Linked DNA regions of Homo sapiens. The protein of the gene in region 1 purifies or fractionates together with the protein of each later gene. This does not show direct contact. Each region holds a gene or a part of one and is shown in the gene's direction. Other genes may lie near its edges. The genes, in order: ZNF324B, RPF1, CEP78 and TRIM71.

Evidence for each region.
Region 2: the proteins of ZNF324B (region 1) and RPF1 purify together in Homo sapiens (affinity purification with mass spectrometry; 2 studies listed by BioGRID and IntAct, with this or other methods). This does not show direct contact.
Region 3: the proteins of ZNF324B (region 1) and CEP78 purify together in Homo sapiens (affinity purification with mass spectrometry; 2 studies listed by BioGRID and IntAct, with this or other methods). This does not show direct contact.
Region 4: the proteins of ZNF324B (region 1) and TRIM71 purify together in Homo sapiens (affinity purification with mass spectrometry; 2 studies listed by BioGRID and IntAct, with this or other methods). This does not show direct contact.

What each region holds. Positions count from the first base shown.
Region 1 is NC_000019.10:58,447,671-58,454,624, forward strand, and holds the start of ZNF324B (zinc finger protein 324B), read left to right. Parts: upstream 1-3,951; 5' UTR 3,952-4,034; exon of another isoform or gene 4,035-4,083; intron 4,084-4,125; exon of another isoform or gene 4,126-5,112; intron 5,113-5,516; exon of another isoform or gene 5,517-5,596; intron 5,597-6,025; coding exon of another isoform or gene 6,026-6,031; coding exon 6,032-6,152; intron 6,153-6,557; coding exon 6,558-6,674; intron 6,675-6,954. UniProt on the Homo sapiens protein: May be involved in transcriptional regulation.
Region 2 is NC_000001.11:84,475,438-84,482,284, forward strand, and holds the start of RPF1 (ribosome production factor 1), read left to right. Parts: upstream 1-3,828; 5' UTR 3,829-3,844; coding exon 3,845-4,072; intron 4,073-5,518; coding exon 5,519-5,575; intron 5,576-6,847.
Region 3 is NC_000009.12:78,239,054-78,246,080, forward strand, and holds part of CEP78 (centrosomal protein of 78 kDa), read left to right. Parts: intron 1-969; coding exon 970-1,142; intron 1,143-1,238; coding exon 1,239-1,311; intron 1,312-2,642; coding exon 2,643-2,746; intron 2,747-4,408; coding exon 4,409-4,583; intron 4,584-7,027. UniProt on the Homo sapiens protein: Centriole wall protein that localizes to mature centrioles and regulates centriole and cilia biogenesis. Involved in centrosome duplication: required for efficient PLK4 centrosomal localization and PLK4-induced overduplication of centrioles.
Region 4 is NC_000003.12:32,820,985-32,828,011, forward strand, and holds part of TRIM71 (E3 ubiquitin-protein ligase TRIM71), read left to right. Parts: intron 1-7,027.

The sequences.
Region 1 (6,954 bases):
CCAACCTGAGAAACATGGTGAAACCTCGTTTCTACAAAAAAAGTAAATAAAATTAGCCAGGTGATATGGTTTGGCTGTGTCCCCACCCAAATCTCATCTTGAATTGTAACTCTCATAATTCCCACACGTTGTGGGAGGGACCCAGTGGGAGATAAGTGAGTCATGGGGGCAGTTTCCCCACACTGTTCTCGTGGTAGTGAATAAGTCTCAAGAGACCTGATGGTTTTATAAGGGGTTTCCTCTTTTGCTTGGCTCTCATTTGCTCTTACCTGCCACCATGTAAGACAGGGCTTTCACCTTCTGCCATGATTGTGAGGCCTCCCAGCCACATGGAACTGTGAGTCCATTAAACCTCTTTGTCTTCATAAATTACCCAGTCTCAAGTATGTCCTTATCAGCAATGTGAAAACAGATGAATATAGTAAATTGGTAGAGTGGGGTACTGCTATAAAGATACCCGAAAATGTGGAGGCAACTTTGGAATTGGGTAACAGGCAGAGGTTGGAACAGTTTGGAAGCCTCAGAAGGAGATAGGAAAATGTGGGAATGTTTGGAACTTCCTAGAGACTTGTTGAATGGCTTTGACCAAAATGCTGATAATGATATGGGCAATGAACTCCAGGCTGAGGTAGTCTCAAATGGAGATGAAGTTGTTGGGAACTGGAGTAAAGGTGATGCTTGCTATGTTTTAGCAAAGAGACTGGTGGCATTTTGCCCCTGCTGTAGAGATTTGTGGAACTTTGGATTTGAGGGAGATGACTTAAAGTATCTGGTCCGGGTGCAGTGGCTCACGCCTGTAATCCCAGCACTTTGGGAGGCTGAGGCAGGTGGATCATGAGGTCAGGAGATCAAGACCATCCTGGCTAACATGGTGAAACCCCGTCTCTACTAAAAAAATACAAAGAAATTAGCCTGGCATGATGGCGGGTGCCTGTAGTCCCAGCTACTCAGGAGGCTGAGGCAGGAGACTGGCATGAACCTAGGAGGCGGAGCTTGCAGTGAGCCAAGATTGCAACACTGCCCTGCAGCCTGGGTGACAGAGCAAGACTCCATCTCAAAAAAAATAAAAATAAAAATAAAGTATCTGGTGGAAGAAATTTCTAAGCAGCAAAGCATTCAAGAGGTGACTTTGATATTATTAAAAGCATTCAGTTTTAAAAGGGAAATACAGCATAAAAGTTCAGAAAATTTGCAGCCTGACCATGCAACAGAAAAGAAAAACACATTTTCTGTGGAGAAATTCAAGAAATTTGCATAAGTAACCAGGAGTCAAATGTTAATCGCCCGGACAATGGGGAAAATATCTCCAGGACATGTCAGAGACCTTTGTGGCAGCCCTTCCCATCACAGGCCCAGAGGCCTAGGAGGAAAAAATGGTTTCGTGGGCTCCCCCTGCTGTGTGCAGCCTACAGACTTGGTGCCCTGCATCCCAGCTGCTTGAACTATGGCTAAAAGGAGCCAAGGTACAGCTTAGGCTGTGGCTTCAGAGGGTGCAAGCCTCAAGCCTTGGCAGCTCCCATGTGGTGTTGAGCCTGTGGGTGCACAGAACTCAAGAACTGAGGTTTGGGAACCTCCACCTAGATTTCAGAAGATGTATGGAAATGCCCAGATTTGGAGCAGGCAAAAGTTTGCTGCAGGGGCAGGGCCCTCATGGAGAACCTCTGGTAGGGCAGTGCTGAAGGGAAATGTGGGGTTGAAGACCCCACACTGAGTCCCCACTGGGGTACTGCCTAGTGGAGCTGTGAGAAGGGGGCCACCATCCTCCAGACTCCAGAATGGTAGATACAACCAACAGCTTGGACCACGCACCCGGAAAAGTCACAGACACTCAACACCAGCCCATGAAAGCAGCTGGGAGGGAGGCTGTACCCTGCAAAGCCACAGAGCTGCAGCTGCCCAAGACCATGGGAACCCACTGCTTGTATCAGTGTGACCTGGATGTGAGACATGGAGTCAGAGGAGATTATTTTGGAACTTTAAGATTCGACTGTCCTGCTGCATTTCAGACTTTCGTGGGGCCTTTAGCCCCTTTCTTTTGGCCAATTTCTCCCATTTGGAATGGGTGTATTTATCCAACGGCTGTACCCCAATTGTATCTAGGAAGTGACTAACTTGCTTTTGATTTTACAGGCTCATAGGAAGAAGGGAATTGCCTTGTCTCAGATGAGATTTTGGACTGTGGACTTTTGAGCTAATGCTGAAATAAGTAGACTTTGGGGGACTGTTGGGAAGGCACGATTGGTTCTGAAATGTGAGCACGAGATTTGGGAGGGGCGAGGAACAGAATGATATGGTTTGGCTGTGTCCCCAACCAAATCTCATTTTGAATTGTAGCTTTCATAATTCCCACATGTTGTGGAAGGGGCCCCAGTTAGAGGTAACTGAGTCATGGGGACAGTTTCCCCCATACTATTCTTGTGGTAGTGAGTAAGTCTCACGAGATCTGATGGTTTCATAAGGGGTTTCCTCTTTTGCTTGACTCTCATTTGCTCTTGCCTGCTGCCATGTAAGACGTGCCTTTCACCTTCTGTCATGATTGTGAGGCCTCTCCAGCCACGTGGAACTATGAGTCCACTAAACCTCTTTTTCTTTATAAATTACCCAGTCTCAGATATGTCTTTATCAGCAACGTGAAAACAGACTAATACACCAGGCATCGTGGCTCCTGCCTGTAGTTCCAGCTACTTGGGAGGCTGAAGTTGGAGGACTGTTTGAGCATGGGAGGCGGAGGTTGCAGTGACCCGAGTATGCACCACTGCACTCCATCCTGGGTAAGAGAGTGAGACCCTGTCTCAAAAAAAAAAAAAAAAAAGTAAAAAAAAATTGCTTGAAATGTTAATAATGCCTCTAAGCATTTGATTAAATCACAATAGTACTTAAGTGTTCTTAAATTCTTTCAAAGCAGGAAAAATTTAAATAAAAACATTCAAAAATTGTCGAGCTATCTTACACTATAGGGATCTACAAGTAGAATCAATTCTGTGGACAGTTATAGCTGACAGTAGACAGATATTTATAGATGGAGGTGGGTATAGAGGAAGACAAAATGAATTAACGTACTTGACATCTGAGAACTGTCTAAGGATCCTAAAAACAAGACCCTCACAGGGAAGCAACAAAGAGAGAATCGTTTATTCTCTGCCAACAACATGGTCAGTCTACATTGAGACTGCCCTGCCTTTTGTTGTTATGTGTCAAAGACACTTAGATTGGTCCAGAGAAAAAAGGAACAAAGCATCCATGTTGTGATGTGTGGGGCAAAGCAAGAACTAGATGGTCTAAGGACAAGCAAGGCTGGGGAATTACCTTCTGCTCGTCCAAGTTACAAGGAAAACAAGTTTTGGGCGAGCGTCCAAGAACAATCACAGAATCAAGACAAATGACAAGCGGGTAGTGTCATTACAGGCTGAGAATTCTTGGTGTAGAGGTTGAAAAACGGACCTTAAACCTTTACGGGACACTGACACACAGAGAGATCAAACCCTCGCCCAGGATGCACAGTCAGTGAGATGCAAAGCTGGGAAGGGAACCCGGAGCTCCAGGCATCTGCTCCTCCACCTACACCTGCCCTACCCGGTGCGTTTTCTCCTCCCTGCTACCTGCTGGTGTTGCCTTCTGGAACCTCCGCAGTTTCTGCTTTCACACCTGCAGGGTTTAGTCTCCAGGGCTGCTTAGGTGGGTGCCAGGAACTGGGAATCCCCAACGCGGGACAACCTGCCGGGCGACTCAACCAGTGCCACGGAGCCCTTGGAAACCCGCGGCAGCTGCGCTACTCCATTTCCAGGCGCCCAGCGCGGCGGCGCTTAGCCGTTGCCATGGAGACTGGTAATGGCCCCGCCTCCGCGCCGAAAAACAGGCAGGAACCACATAACCCAGAAGGCTGTGCGCAAGCGTCTGCGCGCGTATTGGGGCAATGTGAGCTCTGGGGGCTGGACTTCCGGCGTTGGGACTGTCACTTGGCTGCTCGCGTCAGGCCACACCGGTGGTCTGGGCTGTGGCGCGCGGGTCGGGGCCCGAGGCGGGCGGCCAGGAAGGTACGGACCACGAGCAGCCGGCCGCGCCCCCAAGCCTCGGTATCTTCGAGTATGACGTGGTCGGCCCGGGGGCGGTCGGGCCCCGGCGGGAACCACGCGTTCTCCCGCCCCGCGGAAGCCCAGGAGGCAGCGCATTGGGCATTCTGCGCCCATGACTGCCGGGCAGGCTGAGGCGCGGGGCAGCCGCGGGAGGCTGCTGGCGGGGATGGCGGTCCCGGGTGGTCCATGCCTTTCTTCCCTCCCAGTTGCGGGTTCCGCTGGCGGCGGTGGCGCTGACAAGCCCGCGCCGGGGGGGCGGGGGAGTCCCTGCTCACACAGACTGCGCCCCCACGGAGTGAGGCCGCTTCCTAGACCTCGCCTAGTCGTCTTTCCTCTCCCTGCCCTGGGGGGGTTGCGGGGGTCAGTGCAAACTCCTGCGTCCAGGGCACTGGTGAGCTCCCGACTTCCGGCAGCCAGGGGGCTGAGGTCCCGAAGGAGGCTCCGAGGGGAGAGTCCTGCGTGTGCAAAACCTGGGAGGGGAGCCGAAGCCCAGATGCTTCTGGGACTGAGCGCTCTCGATGTGGAGCTGGAGTAGAGGGGATGTGTGCGGCTGCAGTAGCAGGCGAGGGAGTGGGCTTTATCTCGAGGGCGTCGGGAGACATAGAAGTTTTGAACAGAATCAGGACATCCTCTGAGTTGGGACTTTAAAACGGTTCCACCGTTTGTTGCGTGGAGAACAGACATGCAGGGGTGTCGGCATGAAGGGAAGAACCGACTGCCACAGTCTGGGCAGCAGTGGAGGTGGGCGACCAGGTGAATTCTGGTGGATCTGCGGATGCATCAGGTGTGGGCTGTTTGAAGAACTAAGTACCCCATGTTGTTCAGCCTGAGCGCCTGGAAGAAGAGAGCTGCTGTAGATAGAAAGGAGAATTGAAAGGAAAGCAGGTTTCCTTCAGGGGAAAGATCAAGAGTCTGGGATGTCCCAGGTTGGTCATGTCACTGGACCTGACGTTGTTGGTGTCCTGGGCTGAGGACAGGGCCTATAAACTGGACTGAAGAAGGCGATGAGCAGTCAGGCGTGCGGAGTTACAGCTTGAGGGTAAAGAAAACCGGCTGGGGTGCCTGAGGCTATCAGGGGAGGAGTTCGGCAGGTGGCTGAATAGGAGAGGGTGGCAGCAATGTGGGAAAGAAATTGCGGGAGCGCTGAGATCGAGACCATCCTGGCTCACACAGTGAAACCCGGTCTCTACTAAAAATCCAAAAAAATTAGCCAGGTGTGGTGGCGGGAGGCTGAGGCAGGAGAATGGCGTGAACCCGGGAGCCGGAGCTTGCAGTGAGCCGAGATTGCCCCACTGCACTCCAGCCTGGGTGACGGAGTGAGACTCCGTCTCCAAAATAAAAATAAATAAATAAATAAATAAATAAATAAATAAATAAATAAATAAATTGAGGAGGGGGCGCCATGTGGAGGGAGGAAGGGATTGAGTTCCCCTGTGTTCACAGGTTCTTGGGGCTGCACCCCTATGACGACTGGTGGGGATCATCCAGTCCCTCAGGCTGGATGAGCAGCCTGGAAATGTCAGGCAAGCGCAGCAGGGGAAGGTCTCAGTGATGGGCATGCCTGGGGGGTCCACAGCTGGGACTTACACCCTTGCTTATTACAAAAGCAAGAAGGGCACATCTGGGGAGGGTCATGAATGGTCATGCTGAGTCACGAGTGGATATTTGGGGCTGCCCTTGGTGTGGCAGCTAAGGGCCCAGCCAGGGCTTGCTCTAGCCTGCTTGTGTAGGGGTGGCCAGTGGGGAAGTCAAGAAGCCATCTGGGGCCTGGACCAGGAGGGCAGAGGGGAGGGGTCCCAGACAGGTGAGGGAAGTGCCACCTGAAGATAATCTCGGGGTGGAACCCAAGGAAGGAGGGACACTGGGGGAGGTGACTGTTGGGATGGGGAGCTTGGTCCTGGCTCACAGCCATACCTTAGACCATGCCTACCTCCACCTCCCTGCTGTTTTAGGACCTGATGACCTTCGAGGATGTGGCCGTGTACTTCTCCCAGGAGGAGTGGGGGCTCCTGGACACAGCGCAGAGGGCCCTGTACCGCCACGTGATGCTGGAAAACTTCACACTTGTGACCTCACTTGGTAAGGCCCTGGGTGCTCCATGAAAAGTGCACTTGGTGACAATCAGGACTGCCTCTTCACTTCCCTCCTGGTTGATGAGCAGGATCAAATCTGGCCAGGGCCACGTGGAACAAGGGTCTGGTCCTGTAGACACAAAGTTTGGTTGGGTCAGCCACTCCTTGCCGCCCTGTCCAGCTGTGGCCTCTCTCATGCCTGGGCTCAGTCCCGTTGCTTTGGTGCTCTGGGCACAGTTGCTGCTCTGGGGACACATGAGCTATTCCTATGAGCCCCTTGCCCTGTGCTATCTTTAGATTCTCCCAGTTGCACAGATTACTGTCTATTTCCATGAAGCCCTGACTCCTGCTCTCTGTTGGGAGGTGGGTTGTCTTGACCTGGGGCTGGGCTCTCACCTGCTCCTCCTCACAGGACTCTCTACCTCCCGACCTCGTGTGGTCATTCAACTTGAGCGTGGCGAGGAGCCCTGGGTTCCCAGTGGAAAGGACATGACCCTGGCCAGGAACACCTACGGGAGGCTCAACTCTGGTGAGTGGGAGCTCAGGTGGGGTGAACTAAGGACCAACCTGTGGCCAAGCCCATGTCCCTGCTTTTCTGACTCTGGAAACACATCCTCCTCTCCTGCCTCCTACCTGACTCCCTTCTCTTCCATCATCAGCCTCTCCTGGAGGCTGCTGCCTTAGTAGGTGCCCTTGAAGGGAGAGCTCCAAGGGCACAGGAGCTGGGTTCACACAGAAGGGCCTACCTTCAGCTGGGCTGTGTGGCCTTGAACCCTCCACAACTAGCAGCCATTATTGATAGGTATTTA
Region 2 (6,847 bases), on another chromosome or scaffold:
CTTAAGTCATACTGTAAAATAATAGGTCAAATTTTCTGAAGAGAATCTTGATTTGGATCACTGAACTCACCTGGTGCCTAAGAGTTGTATTCCAGCGTGCCCCAAATGTCAGAATCAAAACAAATAGGCAAAAATTGTATTAAGTATTAAAAGTAAGTGCTTTATTTTAAAATAACATATACTCTATTGGAAGTGGGCCTGGAAAATAATGGGCAATGAAAGAATTGGTGAGAGAAAGTGAACGGCTGAAATGAACCTCGTAAAGCACTCTACAGTGACCTCTATTCTTGTGTTTCATCTTCTTCTAAAATTGTACACTACTTAATGGCAAACATGATGCCTTTTTCTTCCACACTAGTTAGAACAGTCTCTGACACCAATAAATGGTAAAAATAGCTAGCTAGCATTTATTGAGTGTGTCTGGTTCTTTAATATACATCTTTACTCCTCTCTATACATCCTATGTGGCAGTATAATTAGCCCCAGTTTACAGACAAATTGAGACCCACAGACATTTTATGATTTAACTGAGATTTTATAGCATCTAAGTGATTGAGCCAAGATCTGAACACAACCCACCCTATTCATTTACAGAGTAGCATTTAATACATATTTGTTGAATTAATCAATGTTTTTGTGACTTAAGAATAAGGACTTATTCTGATTATAGAAATCCTTTCATTCAACTCATACAATTGTTATTATAAATACGGCATGAAGAAAAAAAAAGGAAGTCTAAGTTAAGGAGTTAATGATCTCATTTGTATGGTGCTTCTAAATAAATTTAACACTGTTATCTAAATCTATTTCAAAACTATTTTGTATTCTTATGAGAAAAGGAAATATTATATGTAGGGAGATAAAACGTTACAGTTAGAAGAGACTTTCAAAATATTTTCTCAGTCTGTATTTCCAGGATGGAGATTTACTTATTCCCCTTCTTCTTCTTCTCCCCCTCCTCTTGTTCTTTTATTTATTTATTTATTTATTTATTTATTTATTTATTTATTTTTAAGACAGGGTCCTTCTGTCACCCAGGCTGGAGTGCAGTGATGCAATCACAGCTCACTGCAACCTTGAATTCCTGGGCTTAAGCTATTCTCCCACCTTGGCCTATCAAAGTGTTGGGATTACAGGCATGAGCCACAGCCCCAGGACTACTCTTCCTTTTTGACTTGATTACCCCCCTTTAAATAAACTATATATGAAATTTTATGGTTTTGGGGTTTTTTTTGTTTTGTTTTGTTTTTTGAGATGGAGTCTCACTCTGTCACCCAGGCTGGAGTACAATGGCACCATCTCAGCTCACTGCAACCTCCGCCTCCCAGGTTCAAGCAATTCTCCTGTCTCAGCCTCCTGAGTAGTTGGGATTACAGGCAACTGTCACCACATCCAGCGAATTTTTCTATTTTTAGTAGAGATGGGGTTTCACCATGTTGGCCAGGCTGGTCTCGAACTCCTGACCTCAAGTGATCCACCCACCTCAGCCTCCCAAAGTGCTGGGATTACAGGCATGAGCCACCATGTCCAGATAAATTTTATGATTTACTGCAGCCAAATCTATATGTCAGTGATTTTAAAACTCAATGCTATTTTTTTCCTTTTTTTGTATTATATAACTTAAATCCAATTTTGGATCTAAACATAATGATTTTAAGTTTTTTAACAACAATTTTCAATTTGTGATCTAATAGCAGGTTTGGATGGAGCTTGTGTTCTGGAAGACACAGTTTTGATGCTTTTAATATCCTGCTGTTGTTAAATAGAATTTGAATGGGTGAAAAATGAAATGTGGACAAAAACATATTGGATTCTCAAAACACGAAATATAGATATTGGTACATAAAATTTGAAATTAAGGCAGATTCTGGAAAACTGACTCCTAACAGTAAATCAAAAGGGATTTCTTGTTGCTATTTGGAAAGCATTTTCATAAAATTAGAATGAAGAATACAGCAAATTTAACCACTAGGAAAACACTTTCTTCACTTGCCTTCCATGACATTCTACTCTCTTGATTTTCTCTTCTCCTTCTCCTTTGCTGGGTCCTCCTTTTCTTTCCATCTCTTCATGCAGGACTCCTCCAGGGTTCAGTCCTTGATCTTCTTTTTTCAGTTTTCTATCTACACTCATTCTAATGGTTTGAAATACTACCTATGTGCCAATTACTTCCAAAGTTTGATCTTTAGCCCACACCTCTCTGTCCTGCTGCAGAATCATACATCCCAACTGACTAGTTGACACCACCAATCAGATCACTAAAAAGTATCTCAAACTTAACATTTCCAAAACTGAAATCTTGATCTTACCTCTCAGATTTGTTCCATCTGAACTTTCCCGCATTTCACCTGATGGTAACTCCATCCTTTGAATCACTCAGGTCGAAAGTCTTGGAGTCATCCTTGACTCTTTCATGTCCTCCCTTCAGTTCCATCAGTAACTTTACCTTCCAGAGGAATCACTTCTCAACCACCTACACAAGACTTACCCTGGTTCAGGCCACTATCATTTCTTCCCTTCTTCCACACACCCTGCCCCTGCATAGGCTCTTCTCAAAAGAAGATTCTGAATGACGCTTTTACTTTATTTTTATTTATTTTTTTGAGAGGGTCTCACCCTCTCACCCAGGCTGGAATGCAGTGGCACCAACATGGCTCATTGCAACCTAGCCTTCCAGGCTCAATGGATCCTACTGCCTCAGCCTCCTGAGTAGCTGGGACCACAGATGTACACCATGCCCAAACAGATATATATATTTTTTTACTTTTTGTAGACATGGGGTCTCACAGTGTTGCCAAAGCTGGTCTTGAACTCCCAGGCTCAAGCAATCCTCCTGCCTTGGCCTCCCAAAGTGCTAAAATTACAGGCATGGGCCACTGCACCAGCCTGATACTTTTAAGATGTTAAGATCATACCATTCTTTTCCTCAAAATTCTATAAGAGATCTTCATCTCACATAAAATAAAAGCCAAAGTCCTTACAAAACTCTACACCACCTGTCCAATCTCAACACTTCTTGCCTTTCCTGGCTTGCTACTGACTAGGAGCATTGGAGCTGGCTGTTTGCTTTGCCAGGACAGCTTTTCTCCTTGATAACCAGCTTTTCTCAGATTAACAGCTCTTCCCTCAGATAACTAGTTTAGCCCATTACCTCCTTCAAACCTTGGCTCAATGTAACGTTTTCAATGAAGCCTACTCTGAGAATCCTATTTAAAATTGCAACGTACTTTGGGAGTCCAGGGCGGACAGATCACCTGAAATCAAGAGTACAAGACCAGCCTGGCCAACATGGTGAAACTCCATCTCTGCAAAAATACAAAAATTAGCCGGGCATGGTGGCACGTGTTTGTAGTCCCAGCTACTCAGGAGGAGGAGTTTGCAGTGATCGGAGATCGTGCCACTGCACTCCAGCCTGGGCATTAAAGCAAGGCTCCGTCTCAAAAAGATGAATGTCTCTTCATCTTCTTTTATCCTGTTCTATTTTTTTTCCATACCATGTCTTACTCTGTAGCTCACCATAATTTATTTGTATGCTCATTTTAGGTTTCCCTCAAGTAAAACGTAAACTAATCCAGGCACGGTTTTTGTTGTTGTTCCATTATTTTGAGGGCTGGGCACATAGATGCGCAAGGAGTGCCCAAACTCATCATCTCACTCTTTATACAGCTGGGCAAACTGCCTAAAGTTTCCTCAAGCCTCAGCTTTACTATTTTCTTGAATGGCTAAAACTCACAAAACACATCTAGCGTCAAAAACTTTGCGACCCCGGAAGTAAAAGGTTAAGGAAGGGGGTCACAGGAGAAGGCTATTTCCGTTTCCGTACGGAAGCAAAGGAGCCAAGACCATGGCGAAAGCCGGGGATAAGAGCAGCAGCAGCGGGAAGAAAAGTCTAAAACGGAAAGCCGCTGCCGAAGAACTTCAGGAGGCTGCAGGCGCTGGGGATGGGGCGACGGAAAACGGGGTCCAACCCCCGAAAGCGGCTGCCTTTCCGCCAGGCTTTAGCATTTCGGAGATTAAAAACAAACAGCGGCGACACTTAATGTTCACGCGGTGGAAACAGCAGCAGCGGAAGGTACGCGAGAGGCGGGGGCTGCCGGGCGCTTGCGCGTTGTTCCTGACGCTTAGGGCGGTCGCGGGGCGCACATCTGTGGTTGTCTGCTGGTCTCAAAAGTGTTCTCTGTGGCTCCGTGGGAAGGGTGGCGTCGCGGCCCACGTGTTCTGGTCCCCTCGCCCTAGTTTGGAGACTCTAGGTTCAGCCTTTTGCCTGAGCGTCAAGGTGGAAGATTATCTTGATAGGCTCTTTCCTGGGACGCTAGATTCACAAGGAAAGCTGTAAGGCCAGTTGGCTTAGTAGTGAAAACTACGCCCTCCTGGCCCAGAAGGCAAAAGTCTCAGCCCTTTGGTCCGTCTAGGTAGCGTTGGTTAATTTGCAGAATCTGAAATGGAGGCAATACGTAATAAATCCAAAATACTGCTTCTCTGATTCCTGCAGGAGCTCCTTACCGAAATTAGTACTGTAAAGTTTCTGGTAATTGTATTTGTTCTTTTCAGCTTTATCCTTATACGTTTCTGGTAGGTAAACAAACTGAAACGTAAAGAGGTTTAAACGACTTGTCAAGGTCGCAGTGCTCATTTCTGGTTAAATTGCAATTGGAAGAAAACGTTTGCTTATTCTTGCACATCGTAGAAGTTCACACAATATTATTATTATGTGTCTGCCTCCTCTTACTGGCCCTTCTGAGGCCCGGGACTGGTTCTTACTCATGTTCAGTGTCAAGGTGCTGTTTCAATACATACAAGGGGCGTTTAACTCATTCTGGTATGCACGTATTGGGGAGGGATGTCCTGGAAGACTTATTGGAGCTATGATTTCTAATCTGAAACCTGGTGGATTGAGGATCAGTAGGTGCTGGGGAAAAAAGAATATTTTTTATTTTGTCAAGCATTCTATCTAGAAATCTCCAGAAGAATATATAGATTGACAATACAAATACAGATAATCTTAAGCCACCTTGCAAGCTCTTACTAAATTTTAGAAGTATATTTTGATTATAAAATATGTGAATAACTGGTGATGGTTTTATGGAAAACAACCTGAAAACTCAGCTCCCATTCCTATTTTTAGTGCTTTTCAAGAGAAGCAAGCAGCATAACCATGGTCGTCTTTAGGATGCCACCAGTTAGGCAAAACAAAACACAGTGGAAACCATCACATACTTTAATTAATTTGAGGCTTTATGGAAAAAGGTTAAGCTACTCAAATTTTAAATGTTCAAACTTGCCAGTTTAGATTTTTTTAAAGGAGCAGGTCTTTGTTAAAGAAATCTTATTGATTGGCCAGCTCATTTGGCTTACAGTAATTTAGGTAGAAAACTCCACGTCCAGATGCTTATTTCAATAGATTACAAAGACCGCCCAGTTCGAGTATTCATAGCATTAGTAATTTGTAGTTTCAGTATGTGTTTGTGATATAACTGGTTGTTTCTCAGTATTGTTCTCTTTTTTTTTAACCCTTTAGGAAAAGTTGGCAGCTAAGAAAAAACTTAAAAAAGAAAGAGAGGCTCTTGGCGATAAGGTAAATAAAATTTTTAGCTGTTTGCTTTCTATCTTATATTAGGGAATCCCTCCTGATATTTAAGTTGAATTACTTTCTTTTAAAATTTATTATTACGTATTTCAGATGTATGAAGAAATACAAAAGTAATATAATAAACCTCTTTGTATCATTTACCCAGCTTAAGAAATAATGCATTAGCAAAGAATGTTGGAAGCCCCTCGTCTGCTTCATAATTGCTTTTCCCTCCGAAGATAACCACTCGTGAAATTTTTGATTATTTTTTCCATGCACTTCTTTTACCTTTACTGTGTATGTTTGTGTACCTATACGGTAACACAGTGGTGGTATTTTGCATATAACTTTGTGTTTCAGAGGTCAACACCTCTCCCTGACTTTGGGAATGGGGAAGCTCCCCCAGGTTAGGCCTGGAGCTTGGCTCTTGTCATGTGAAGCAAAGATTTTTGGTCAGGCAAGGCTGGGGAAAGGCAGGACAGATCCTCTTCTGGAGTAGGGTGATAAGGGTGTGTTAAGCTTTAGAGCTGGTACAGAGGATATGAACCTGTGAAAAGTGAGAATGGGGAGTGGGAGGACGGTGAGGATTATGGCAGAGAAAAGAGCAGATAATGCATCAAGAAAGAATTTGGCTGTATTTGTGGTACTCATAAGAAGTGAAATCTTTATTGAAAAAATTTTTTAAACTACTAAATGCTCATACATTATTGCATAGCTAAGTTATTTTTATTTTCAGTGTATTTATAGTTACTCCTAGGTTGTGATTTATTTTTGCAAAATTTTGAAAACATTCATGTCTCCGCCTCCCATTCAAGTAAGTTACCAAATAAGGGTGTTTGAGGAAGGGAAAAAAATGTAAAGACAGTATACAAACTAAACACTCTACTATTTCATACATTCTTTGAATAGTATTAGGTTAAACCATAGAAAATTGTCAATAGTAGACTGTTTTGACCTGCAGTATCCTAGTATGTCAAGCATGTTAGTCTCTTTTTAATTCTTTTGTAATCAGTCTATTACAGCAAATTAATGTTATGATCACCATTTGAAAACACCACCATTCTTGTTTTTTGAGATGAAAGATAACTTCTTAAAATTGCCTCCTTTAAAAAATGCTTAAAATGTAATATTTGTTTCATAGAGTAATAAATGCTAGTTTCAGTTTGTATTTTCTTCATAGCTCTGCTAGTGTACATATATTTTGAATTAGTTTTAATGTACTCTTACAATTCTGTGTTCTACTTCTTAGCAATTCATTTACACCATTTCTTGGTCTAA
Region 3 (7,027 bases), on another chromosome or scaffold:
CAGAGTCAAGGCTAGCCTACTAGATCTTGCCTAATATTTTGCACTGAATGTAAGAAAAATGTATTACAGACCATTCTCGTCAGATATTCTTCACTGAACCTTCTTTATCTCTTGCATCTAGTGGGTCTAGGTTGTAGATTTTAACCTCCTACATATTGCTTGTCCATCCTTAATTACATTTTGCCTGGACTATTGCAGACGCTCCTAGCTAGTTTTGCTGCCGTTGAGCTTGGTTTTTCTCAGTTCATCTGCCTACTTTGGTTCAAGTGATCTTTCAAAAAGGAAAAGACATGCTTAAAGTGGCATGCCCACGCAGGACCAGTGTGTATTGGTTGCTTGTGTTCTGCACAGAGGCACTGAAATCTCAGCTGTGTTCTGTTAAGCCTCCTGGGGTTAGTTGGTCTTGAGGAAGGGGAGCTTTTTCTCATTTCCTTTATCTCTTTGATACTCCAACAGTGAGGCACATTTTTCTAACCTGCTAGGGGTATCCTTAATGTGTCAGTGGTAGCCCTGATCCTCATCACCTGTGAGGTAAAAGTGAACTCTCCTAGGCTTGCTTCTCCCTGCCTCTTTGTAAATTTCTGACTCTTCCGGCTACGGCTCTGGGCTTTAGTCGGATCCACCTGCAGTTTTCCAGTGCCCGGCAGGTGTCAGGCTTAGATGCCTTTGCTCTCGCTGCTCCCTCTGGTTAATGCATCACCCACTCTCACCCCATGTTGTCATTCTCATCTTTCTAGATTCAGCTTCAGGATTATCTTGAAGCCATCCTTTCAGTGCAACTTCTTTGCTTCCATAAGAACCTCTATGTACATAGTTTGGTATATCCCATGTGGCTTGAGTTTACATGTGTCTGTGCTTAAGAGGACTTTAAAGGACATGGCTCATTTCTATGTCTTAGCACAGAGCAGATGTTTTTGAATGATACATTGTATGATTGAAGTCACTAACTTTCTTTTATCTTTGTTTTAGGTTCTGACATGAATAAATTTTGCAGAAGTCGTGTTCCTGCGATAAGATACAAAGATGTGACCTTCCAGTTGTGTAAAGCTCTTAAAGGCTGTTTAAGTATATCAAGTGTGCTAAAGAACCTGGAGCTAAATGGACTAATTCTGAGAGAGAGGGATTTAACTATTCTAGCAAAGGTAAGCTTTGTCTCATTTGGCTTGTAGACATTTGATAGTTGCTTTTAGAGGAAAAAAAACCTCAATAACATTTTTAACTTTTCCCCCTCATTAAAGGGATTGAATAAATCGGCTTCTTTGGTGCACCTGTCTCTTGCAAATTGTCCAATTGGAGATGGAGGTTTAGAAAGTGAGTTTAAATCTCATTTAACTCTTGTCCTATCAGGCTGGTTTCATGTTTCCCTACATGCCATGTTAATTCCTGTCTGTACCTTTTTTCTTACTACTGCCTCATATGCTTGTTCAAACCTTGGTCCAGTCTCAAGTCTACCATGAAAGCTTGGCATGCTGAATGTAATCTGAACTAACTTTACTTAAGTTTGTGTTAAACCACAGACCACACAAATATATACCATCTGGTATTCTCTGTTTTTTGTGTTTGTTCATCTTTTAGAGTTTTTCTTCAAGAAATATTTATGGGAAGGAAATAGCAAAATGTAAAGAGGCCGGGCGTGGTGGCTCACGCCTGTGATCCCAGCAATTTGGGAGGCCGACGTGGGCGGATCATGAGGTCAGGAGATTGAGACTGTCCTGGCTAACATGGTGAAACCCCATCTCTACTAAAAAAATACAAAAAAACTCACCAGGCATGGTGGCGGGTGCCTATAGTCCCAGCCACTCAGGAGGCTGAGGCAGGAGAATGGTGTGAACCTGGGAGGCAGAGGTTGCAGTGAGCCAAGATCACACCACTGCACTCTAGCCTGGGCGATAGAGCAAGACTCCGTCTCAAAAAAAAAAAAATCATCATTACTTTAAATAATTAAAACATATATACAATCAATTTTAATGCACTGTGGTATGTTCCAAAATAGGAAATATAAGCAAAGTGCTGTATAGGAGCATATAAAAGGCTGACAGACTTGGGGGGAAAGGGTTGGGATCATGGAAATAGTCACAGAAGGTGACTGTTCGTTGGGATCCTGAAGTCTTGTGTTCGTTGTGTGAAATAGTGGTCTGGAGGGGTAAGGAAACCTGCATTTCAATTTGAGGGAGCAGAGAGTTAAAAGGCCTCTGTCTTCTATTGTTCTAGTACATTAGGTGCTCTAGTATAACACCTAATAAAATTCTGGGTTTATAGTTGACACTGAATTGTTGGTTAATAACAGATTGAGGTCTGCTCTTGGAAATGAAAATAGGAAGAGTTTTATTTTTTTTATGTTTTTCTTTCAGATGTCTCAAAAAGTATATAGAACTTTACTGTGGTCTGGAGTAAGGTTGCAATATTCAGTCTATTCAATTTTGGCATCTAAATAGAATTGAACTATTGCAATAAACTGGAGTAACTCTTTGTTACTGACTTATTTTAGAATGTACCAATCAGTTGCTTAGGTAGATTGTAAATAGTGATTTTAAGAATACAACTATAAAATAGAAAAGATATAAGAAGAGCAAATAAATCAAGACTGACTAGGTTGTATATGCTCTTCATCTTATTGTATGTGGTTTTTTTTTCCATTTTAGTTATTTGTCAAGGTATAAAGAGCTCTATCACTCTTAAGACAGTCAACTTCACAGGATGTAATCTGACATGGCAGGGAGCAGATCACATGGCCAAGATCTTAAAGGTAACTTTATGTTCCAACTTTCATGAAAATGTGTTATATGATTGCCACACGTTAATATTTTGATACAAGACAGCAGTTATTTTTGTCTTTTGATACATATGGGCATTGCAGTTTTAGTTTTGTTTAAAGAATGTGACCAATTTTCAGCCTGGGGTTCTACCATTTATTAAAGGTAGTATGCTTAATCTTAGAAATAGAAGACCTAAAATATAATAATTAGATTTTTCTGTAAATACAGTTTGTAAAACAGTAATTTTAAAGGTGCCTTAACAACTTTATAGTGGTTATTACTACTGTATTTAGGATAAAATTACATAATAATGTGACATGAAGCCTTTTTAGTAATTTGATGGTGTAGATCGGGGTAGTCAAACTATGGCCTGTGGACCAAATCTAGCCTATCACCTATTTTTGTAAATAAAGTTTTGAAACATAGTCATGCCCATTTGTTTACATATTAACTATTGCTACACCCTACACTAGGAGAGTTGAGTAGTTGCAAAAGAAACTATATGACCCACAAAGCTGAAAATGTTTATTTTGGGGCCTTTACAGCGTAAGCCCACTCTCCGTGGGATAGATAATGGTTACTCATGTGGATTCTGAAGCCAGATGGCCTAGGCTAAAACCCGAGCTCTCTCCCATTTAATAACTTGTGACCATGGGCAAATTAGTTAACCGCTCTGTTCCTCAGTTTTCTTATCCATAAAATGTGTATAATAAGAAAACCTACTGTGTCTGTCATTGTTAGGATTTAATGAACTAATGTGTATAAAATAGTGCCTGGCTATCTAAGTGTTTGCTGTTATTTCCTCTTATTGCTTTTATACAGTTATTATGAATAGCAAATGACACTGACAGTTTTCATTTGACGGAGTCATAGGAGCTTTGAATCTTTTGTTTCAGAATGTAATGAGATTTTTTTTTCTCTTAAAATCAGTGTTTCCTGTTACCGAAATTTACTTTATGGATAAAGAGAAGTGATTATGTCTGTAAGATAATACCTGTGGTTAAAACTCAAACCACCAATTTCCGAAGGCATATCAACCTTGCTTTGTATATTCTAGGCCTCTAAATTTGGTGTGCATACCCTAAGAAATATGTGAGATCCCTTGGGTTAGGAGAAGAAAATATTAACCTCTATATTTTTGTATCATTTAAAAAATACCTATTGTTTCTGTTTGATTTGTAATATACATAAAATATGTATATAGAAATTCCTGTATATAGTTTATTAATAAATAACTTACATGTTAAATGTTTACTTGTGGGATGTCCAGTCAAGTGTTTAGAGACCACTGGAGGACAGAATGATATGATTTAGAGGCTCAGCAATGATAGAATTTAGAACCAGTACCTTCACTTGGCATATAAAGAAAATAAAATTCTTAGAAGTTAACTAAGTTGTCAGTTTACATAAAGCAATCAGTAACAGGTCATTAGTGGTTAGGGTCACATAGCTAGTCAGTGACAGACTAGTATCTGGGTCACTGGACTCCTTACTCAAAATCTACTATTTAATCAGTCTGTCAGATTAACCCACCTGGCATATGTACCTGGTGTGTGTGTAAAGCTCTGATGTAATCAGCTGTACTTAGTTCCTTTTAGTGTTCCTATCTCTTTATCCAAGTGTATTAATTTCATCTTATTAAATCTTTGAAGTATCAGACCATGAGAAGGCATGAAGAAACCTGGGCTGAGAGTCTTCGCTATAGGAGACCTGATCTTGACTGTATGGCTGGCTTAAGACGTATCACACTGAATTGCAACACACTTATTGGTGACCTAGGTGCATGTGCTTTTGCAGACTCTCTCAGTGAGGATTTATGGCTGAGAGGTAAGTTAAATGAACTTGTAAGGTGGAAAATATTGAATTTTTTGATATTAAATATGCTTAACTCTTGGCACAGTAATGTTGTCCGAAGGTTTTTTAAAAAGCCTCTTTTTTCTAATAGGTTTTATTTTGTTTTTAAGCCTTTATAAAAGTTATATATATTCTTTATAGAAAATACCAAGTAACAAAAAAAAAAAAAGTACATATAATCTCAATGCCTAGAGATAAACTGTTCATTTTGGTGTATACACTTTCAGTATTGTTTTTTCCTGCAGATACATTTGTGTGCTTAGAGTTACAAGAACAGAACTATAGTGCACTTACCATTTTGTAACCCTGCTTTTTTTATTTAATGATGTATCATGTAGTACTCTATTATATTGAGGCATAATAGTTTAATTCCCTACTATTTGATATTTAGGCAGTTTGTGCTTTTCCCCTGTTATAAACAACTCTGTAGTAAACTCCTTATGTATACATCTCTGTGTCCATTGAAGTTACTTTTTTTTTTTTTTTTTTTTTTTGAGACAGGGTCTTTCTCTGTTGCCCAGGCTGGAGTGCAATGGTGTAATCATACCGCGCTGTAGCCTTAAACTCCTGGCTCAAGTATCCTCCCACTATACCCTCCGAGTAGCTGGCACTACAGGTGCACACCACCATGCCAGGCTAATTTTTGTGGAGACAGGGTCTTGCTGTGTTGCCCAGGCTAGTTTCAAACTCCTGGGCCCAAACAGTTCTCTTGCCTTGGCCTCCCAAAGTGCTGGGATTCCAGGCATGAGCCACTGTGCCCAGCCTGAAGTTACTCCTGTAGGATAAATTACTAAAGTTGAGTAACTCAGTATAATGTATTTCTTAAAGACTTTTGATGCATGTCACCAAATTGCCTTTCAGAAATGCTGTGCCATATTATAGTCTCATAAATGCTGGATTGTGTCTATTTTAAAACCTTAAACTTTACAAAAATGAGAACTCCCCTGCTTTTTCTTTTTTGATGCAAATGGGATTGGTCTCTGAATTTTACAGCTTTTTTCACTCAGTCTAGCATATCTTAAATCAGTAAGTTTACATTTACCATGTCATTTTTAGTGACTCTTCAGGGTTCCATTATGTTAATATGCAATAGTACACTTGGCTTATCCGTTCCTATTAGATATATAAGCTATTTCCAGTTTTTCATTGTTATAAACAGTACTTTGATACGTGTTGTTGCCCGTGTCTCTTATAATTTCCTTCTGGTAAATTCTTAGAAGGAGAGTTGCTGTGTTAACAGAGTCTGCACATTTTAAAGGTTTTTTTAAAATGTGACCTTCGCCAATCTGATAGAAGCATAATCACATTTAATTGTTTTAGTTTATATTCATTTGATTTACTAGTGAGATTTACTGGCTATTTTTATTAATTTGGCTAGGTGGATAATTACATCCTATGCTCATTCTTCTGCAGCAAGAGTTTGTAAAGGTTTTACCATATTCTATCAGATCCATATATCTGACTTATTTCTGTGTGTCTTGTGGTGTCTTAGTCAGTTAGGGCTTCATAGAATATTCTATATTATATATAGTATATATTATATAACTCCATTATAGAAGCATATAACAGAATTATATTCTGGGTGGCTTAAAGAGAAGACATTCATTTCTCACAGTTCTGGAGTCCGAGAAGCCCAAGATCCAGATGCCAGTAGATAGGTGTCAGGTGAGGGCATTCTCCCTAGCTTATGGAAGGCTTTTATATCCTTAAATGGTGGCGAGAGAGAACTCTAGTCTCTTTTTTTTCTTGTAAGGACACTAATCCCATGATGGCTCCACTCTCAAGACCTCAACTAAACCTAATTACCTCTCAAAGGCCCCAATTCCTAATACTACTACCCTGTTGTGGATTAGGGTTTCAATATACATTTTTGGGGAATACAGACATGTAGTCCATAAAATGAGATTCTGAAAGACTTCAGTTATTTTAATGTAATGGTATACACGTGCTTTTGCTCTGATGTAATCTTTTTTTATGCCTGTACTTTTGTGATAATCCTTTTGAGTTGAAATGAGTAGATTGTTCAGCCTCAGTATTACTAGTATTCATGAGCATTTGTTTAGTTCTTTGACCTTTTACTTGAGAGAGAGTTCTTGACCATTATTTTTTCATGATAGGTTTTTAGTATATAATCTCTATAATCTCTATTCACACATTCTTTGGATTCATTATTTCTATCTCCTTAGAGTTCTTTCTTTGTCATTTTTATTCTAAAACTAACAGTTTACATTTTTGTATTTTCTTTTCACTTTTTTAATGTAATTTTTTGAGAGTCACTTGGAATTTGAATTTGAATTTGATGATGAATCTAGTGCAATTTCTGAGCTCCACCCAGTTTTTGCCTGTGATGTTTACACTGCCACTAGCATCCTTGTTAATTATGAACAAATATTCATTCTGTGATGTTTTATGTAGAG
Region 4 (7,027 bases), on another chromosome or scaffold:
GAACGCTAGAAATTTGAGATTAAAGGTGACAAACCAGTGTTCTGAGTAGAAGACTAAAGTGTTAGGAGAGACAGCACTAACAGGTAGTGAGGTTCATAAACGGTTCCACCTACAGCTTAAATAATTCCTTTTCTTTTGATCTCGTTAACAGTTTGAGAATATTGTTCCTTTAAAAAGTCATCCCTCTCTGGCTGGGAAGGAGCTTTAGGACATTTTTGGAGGATGATAGACTGACCCATATCTGGACTGCGATACACTGAATGCCTAAATCCACATATTTTAATGTGTATACTGTCTACCTCAATTTTTAAGATGAGCTCCTTAACTGAGTTGCTTCCCTTGTCCACAGGCTCCGTTAAATAATTCAGAGTAGCACCTTTTCCTTATAGTGACTCAGGCCACCTGACCTTGGGAAGGAGGCCCAAACACCCTACCCCAGCCTGCAGGGTCTCTCGCCCAGGGGGACTTTCTTCCTTAAGCATCCCCTTGTAAAATGCCTTCTTAGGATTGGCAAGTAAGGTGTCTCGTCTGAGCAATTGGCTTTAAACCGTAATGATGATAACCTGGAAATCTTTGGGTTTTCCAACGAAATAATGAGACGTACTTGCTGCTACTCTTTTATTTTGGCTTATTTCAACAACATAGTTGGGGCTTTTCACTAGTTCTGTGCCTCCAGAGTCCGAAAGGCCTGCAGGCTCCGTGGCCCAGCCGGCATCCGGGCGGGGAATCCAAGGCGAGGAATCCGAGGTCGCCGTCCCCGGAACAGCTGGCCGCGGGCCCGCTGCGTGCCGCGGGTCCCGGGAGAGGCGGGCGCAGGTAGAGTCGCCGCGGGCCTGCGCCGCCGCCCGGCCAGCCCGGAGCCTGCCTCGGCTCTGGGGACGTGGCCTGGCCGGCGGCTGCTCTTCTCCCCGCAGGCACCCGCTGGGGTATTCACGGCCGCTCTGGTCATGGAGTAGGGTCTTCGCTTGAGTTTTGGGGGAAGAGTTTCACAACTAGGGAGTTGTGAGCGCTGCTCCAGCTGCTCACAAGTGACCCTTTAGTGTTGTTTTGCTTTTGGCACATAGAACGTGAGCCCTTTGCAGCCTTGGAGGCGACACCGGCAGCAGAAATGCTGGGTGTGTTGTGTGCCTAAGCTGGGCGTCAGGATTCTGTGAATGGCGGGAAGTTGAGCAGGGTTTGAACCCAGGAAAGCCTCTGTCACTAGCGGTGAGGGGCAGTGGGGGTGACATTGTTGCCACCTGGAAAACATTGTAGCCCGCCCCACCCGAGGATGGCAATATTGTTCCCAGTTAGGCAGGTCTGGGGGTGGCGTTTTCTGGAGTCTGGTTGGAAAAAGGGGTGCAGGTGTTGGTAGAATCCATGCGGTCCCTGTGTTGGGCTTTAAAATGCCTCCTGAAGAGAAAAGTTCTAGAATTCCAACTTGATTTGACCCTGAACATTGAGCACTCCTGGGACTGTCTCCTGGCAGGAAACTTAAAGTGGCTTCAGTCACTTGGAACAAGGAGGTTTGCTGCCTAAAATAATCGGTTGCTGTGTGAATTTGTTTTGTATATTTTAAGTCATATTGTAAATGGGACTGTACCTGTATTCAGCACCAGTGTATATTATTCTCTGTTCCCAAAGTCTAAGTTTTTTCAGGTCTGCATATACTCAGTGTATGCATGCTTATTTTAAATTATATTCATGTTCTTGCATAAATTATAAAATCCATACCAAAATATTTTTAAAAGCATAATACAAATTTTCCCACTTACACTGCATGTCGAAGTAATTCTCTTTTTAAGGGTGTGAAATGTAGGTATAGCTAAAGAACCACTTTCCTATCTTTTCCGTCTTTAGAGGCGATCAGATGTAACTAAGTTGGTGAAATTTATGATAAACTTTGAGAATTTCTACAAGAAATTGGCATTTTAATTGGAATCCGATTGATTCATATTAATTTCAACAAATTTTTAAAAAAAATTTTTTTAAAGGAAGGACAAGGAGAGAAAGTGAACAGAAATGGGTATTCTAGTATTTCTGTTACCTGCTTTCAACCTGCTCTACACTACTGGGTGAATATGTCCTCTGAGTGCAGACATCTCACCTACTGGCTGGAAAACCAAACCTAACTGCCTTGAAAATAATTACAGAGGTTGCTGCTTTGAATCCAGTTCAGCAGGTAGACATTAGGAAGCCTACTGAATTCAGAAAATGCTTGATAAAAATATATGGGAGGGAAATGTTCGTTATTGATATGTTAATTGCTTAGCCTTTGTGGGCTTAAGGTAGTTCCATTAAAGTGCATAGGAATGGATTTTTCAACATGGACCCTCAGGAAGTGGGCCACAGCTAGTTTGGCAAGCCTGTGCTGATGAGGTTGCCTTGAAGGCATAACCTGTCATAAACTGTGCTAGTAGTATGGAGGCTGTTGTGGTATCAGCACTGTCTGGGAAACCTTTTGTGATTATTTGTTCAGTTTCCTTCCTTTACAAAGATAAACTATAGTGGTTTTAGTGGTTTGGGGATTGCATAGATTTGATACAAGATTTTTATTTCCAATTCTAGGAATATACATTTTGGAAGACAAGATATTTGGGGAAAAAAACGTTACTTTTTCTAGACTTCCAGTTCTTCATTTGACAACGGTATTTGTTCTTTATCATTGACATTGTTTTCAAAGTGAAATAGTTGTACTTGAAATGGGGAAACCCAGGAGGCGGAGGTTGCAGTGAGCCGAGGGTGCAGTGAGCCGAGATCATGCCATTGCACTCCAGCCTGGGTGACGGAGCGAGACTATCTAAAAAGATACAGGGAAATCTTCCTAAAAGTGTTTGAAGAGGGTCAGGCGTGAGCCACCGCGCCTTTGGGAGGCCGAGGCGGGCGGATCACGAGGTCAAGAGATCGAGACCATCCTGGCCAACATGGTGAAACCCTGTCTCTACTAAAAATACAACAAAAATTAGCCAGGCGTGGTGGCGCGTGCCTGTAGTCCCAGCTACCCAGGAGGCTGAGGCAGGAGCATTGCTTGAACTGGGGAGGCGGAGGCCGCAGTGATCCGAGATCGTGCCGCTGCACTCCAACCTGGGCAACAGTGAGACTTGTCTCAAAAAAAGAAAAAAAAAAGTGTTTGAAGATTAGGTAAAAATTGCCATTTCCCATCTAGTTCTCCCTCCCATTGTATTATAGCTACTTACTTAATACTTTTATTTAGTCCTTTTGTTTTTTTCTGAGATGGAGTTTCACTCTTGTTATCCAGGCTGGAGTGCGGTGGTGCAGTCTTGGCTCACTACAACCTCCACCTCACGGGTTCAAGTGATTCTCCTGCCTCAGCCTCCCAAGTAACGGGGATTACAGGCGCTCGTCACCTTGTCCGGCTAATTTTTTTTCTTTCTTTTTTTTTTTTTTAAGTAGAGACGGGGTTTCACCATATTGGCCAGGCTTGTCTCTAACTCCTGACCTCAGGTGATCCACCTGCCTCGGCTTCCCAAAGGGCTGGGATTGATTACAGGCAAGAGCCACCGCGCCTGGCCCTAGTCCTTTTCTTAAGGCTGAGTCTCACTCATCCCAGGCTGGAGTGCAGTTGTACAGCTCCTTAAAGCCTTGACTTCTCAGGCTTAAGAGATCCTCCTGCCTGTGTCTCTCAAGTAGCTGGGACTACAGGCTCTAGCCATCACACCTGGCTAATTTTTGTAATTTTTGTGGAGATGGCGTTTCGCCATGTTGCCCAGGCTGGTCTCAAACTCCCAAGGTCAAGCGACCTGCCTACCTAGGCCTCCCAAAATGCTGGGATTTCAGTCATGAGCCACCTCGCTGGGCTAGATAGTCCTTTTCTTTTCTTTTTTTCTTGAGATGGAGTCTCGCTGTGTCACCCAGGCTGGAGTTCAGTGGCGCGATCTTGGCTCACTGCAACCTCCGCCTCCCTGGTTCAAGCAATTCTTCAGCCTCAGCCTCCCAAGTAGCTGGGACTACAGTCATGTGCCACCATGCCTGGCTAATTTTTGTATTTTTAGTGGAGACGGTGTTTCACCATGTTGGCCAGGCTGGTCTTGAGCTCCTGACCTCAAGGTGATCTGCCTAACTCGACCTCCCAAAGTGCTGGGATTCAGGTGTGAGCCACTGTGCCTGGCCCTTAGGTAGTCCTTTTCTAGAAGGATCTCAGGAGGCTTAAATGTCTAGTTTCCTCAAGTACTACTTAATATGGATGCAACTTTCTCCTCACATGTAAAATTATGAGCATAATTGGGCTTTATGTCTTTTCACTGAAAAAAGGAACTAATAATCGTGCATATATAGTAAGGGAGTTAGCTCTTGTGGAAGCTGTCAATGAAGTTAAATGGCTAAAACGCTTTTTTTTAAGTGGTTTGCCAGGGTAAAACGTGTTTATAAATTTTTCTGGTTCAAGAGAAATTTTCATTAAATAATTCTGTAGCTCTAAAATTTAACCCCCTCTGAGTTATTTCTGGTGCTAAAAGTCACATGGTTTGCCATTTCTCCATCCAGTTCTCTACACAGGGCAAGGTTTATTTTGTCTGTGTTCATTCTTAGCAAATAAAGGACCATTTCAGTGTCATTTTTGACAGGCAAAAGGGTGAGATGAATTCTATACTATGCAGGCAGTTTCAAAATACTGCTTCCCCCCTTCTCCCACTCCCACCCATAAAACTAATAAAGGTTAAAGGCCTGGCTCACTAAGGCTGTTTTTGCTATCTCTGACATTTTGGAAGCGAGCAAGAGAAAGATAATGATAAAGAATTACAGTTGCCTTAAGGGAGCAAGATGCCACCCATTGAAGCCTACTCCGTTACCGCTTTTCTTCTTGACCTTTCAAGCATTGTGGCTTGCAAGAGTAAGCTTGATCCATCTTTCCTCTAAAGCTGATGTGACCTCCTGCTTGTTCAATACTAAATTATTCCCCTCCTTTTGAGGTTTTGTCTATACTCACAAACTGAGTTGACTGAAACCAGATTGACTGTTTTGATTGACAAGACTCTGACTTGTCAACCTAAAAAGTGGGAGGAGTAGGGGGCCTAGTGGTGTCCCTTTACATTTGAAACTGTTTGACTTAAACGATATTCCAAAGTAAATCTTTGCCTCTCCCATGCCATCTCTTGCCTTCCTCATGCTGTAGATAAATGCAGTTTGCTTACAACTGGCTTTGAAGGTGGTAGAATGAAATGAAATGGGGGAAGATCCCACTCAACTCCCATCCAGGCAGGGTGCGGTGGCTTACGCCTGCAATCCCAGCACTTTGGGAGGCTGACGTGGGCAGATCACATAAGGCCCAGAGTTCGAGACCAGCCTACCAACATGGTGAAACCCCATCTCTACTCAAAATACAAAAATTAGCCGGACGAATCCCAGCTACTGAGGCTGAGGCAGGAGAATCACTTGAGCGTGGGAGGCGGAGGTTGCAGTGGGCCAGGATCATGCTATTGCACTCCAGTCTGGGCGATAGAACAAGACTATGTCTCACAAACAAACTCCCATCCAAACCTGAGTTTTAGAGATACTCATATTAGACTTAGGCTAATAGTTTTTTTTGTCATCCTTACTGTAGATTTTCTACTAATCCTAGATGGTTCCTAACCAGAACTTTAATTCCCATCAGGTGAGTTCTTTTTTTTTTTTTTTTTTTTTTGAGAGGGAGCTCTGTCACCCAGGCTGGAGTGTAGTGGCACCATGTTGGTCAGGCTGGTCTCAAACTCCTGACCTCAAATGGTCCACCCACCTTGGCCTCCCAAAGTGCTGGGATTACAGGTGTGAGCCACCACACCCGGTCAGGTGAGTTTTGTGTTTTGTTTGTTTTTTTGAGACGGAGTCTTGCTCTGTCCTGTCCCTGAGGCTGGAGTGCAGTGGTGCGAACTCAGCTCACTGCAAGCTCTGCCTCCTGGGTTCACGCCATCCTCCTGCCTCAGCCTTCCCAGTAGCTGGGACTACAGGTGCCTGCCACCATGCCCGGCTAATTGTTTTTGTATTTTTAGTAGAGACGGGGTTTCACTGTGTTAGCCAGGATGGTCTTGATCTCCTGACCTCATGATCCACCCGCCTCGGCCTCCCAAAGTGCTGGTATTAACAGGCATGAGCCACCGCGCCCGGGCTATGAGTTTGTTTTTAGTGAAGCTATAAATTATCAGTTGGCACAAAAAATTAGCAGTCAGTTGTATTTCACTCAAAAACAATTTTCCACATAGAAGTAGTAGTCTTTAGCAATAAAAATACTGTTTTCAGTAATTATGTTAGCATATTGAAGTTGTGATTATTGGGAATGAGGTCCTTTGTCATGAAGGGTAGGGGGATAATTCTTTTTTTTTTTTTTGGGTGGAGTCTCACTCTGTTGCCTAGGCTGGAGTGTAATGGTGTGATCTCGGCTCCTTGTACCTTCTGCCTCCTGGGTTCAAGCGATTCTCCTGCCTCGTCTCACGAGTAGCTGGGATCACAGGCATGCACCACCATGCCTGACTAATTTTGTATTTTTAGTAGAGATGGGGTTTTGCCATATTGGCCAGGCTGGTCTCGAACTCCTGACCTCAGGTGATCTGCCGCCTCAGCCTCCCAAAGTGCTGGGATTACAGGCGTGAGCCACCGCGCCTTGCAAGGGGGGATAATTCTTGATTGTGATCATTTATCTATAAGAGCTTCTGCAGAATAGCACATTTTGTCAACATTAATAGGTTTTAAAGCAGAGCAGTGGGCACAAAAAAGAATAAAGTGGGTGCAGATCAGTTGTGTAGACTGAGGACATACCCTCCTGGTTCTGACACCCTGTGAATTCCAGGGGCCCTTGAATGGACCTTGGAGCCTGAGTGGTCAATCAGGTCAGGCGCCTCTGAGAATGAGAGCCTTTGTAAACATCTGTTGGCTGCTGCATCCTGTAGCTGTTACTTCTGGAAAGTTTGGCCAGCCATTTTCTTCTCGTCTTAACCTTTTGCAGTTAAAATGTTTTTCTTGAAATGCCAGTGGATTTGGGGAAGTCGTTTCATACTCTTTTGGGACTAATTGGGATAATTATTAAAATGCTGTTGTATAAAAAATCTGCACTTAAGTT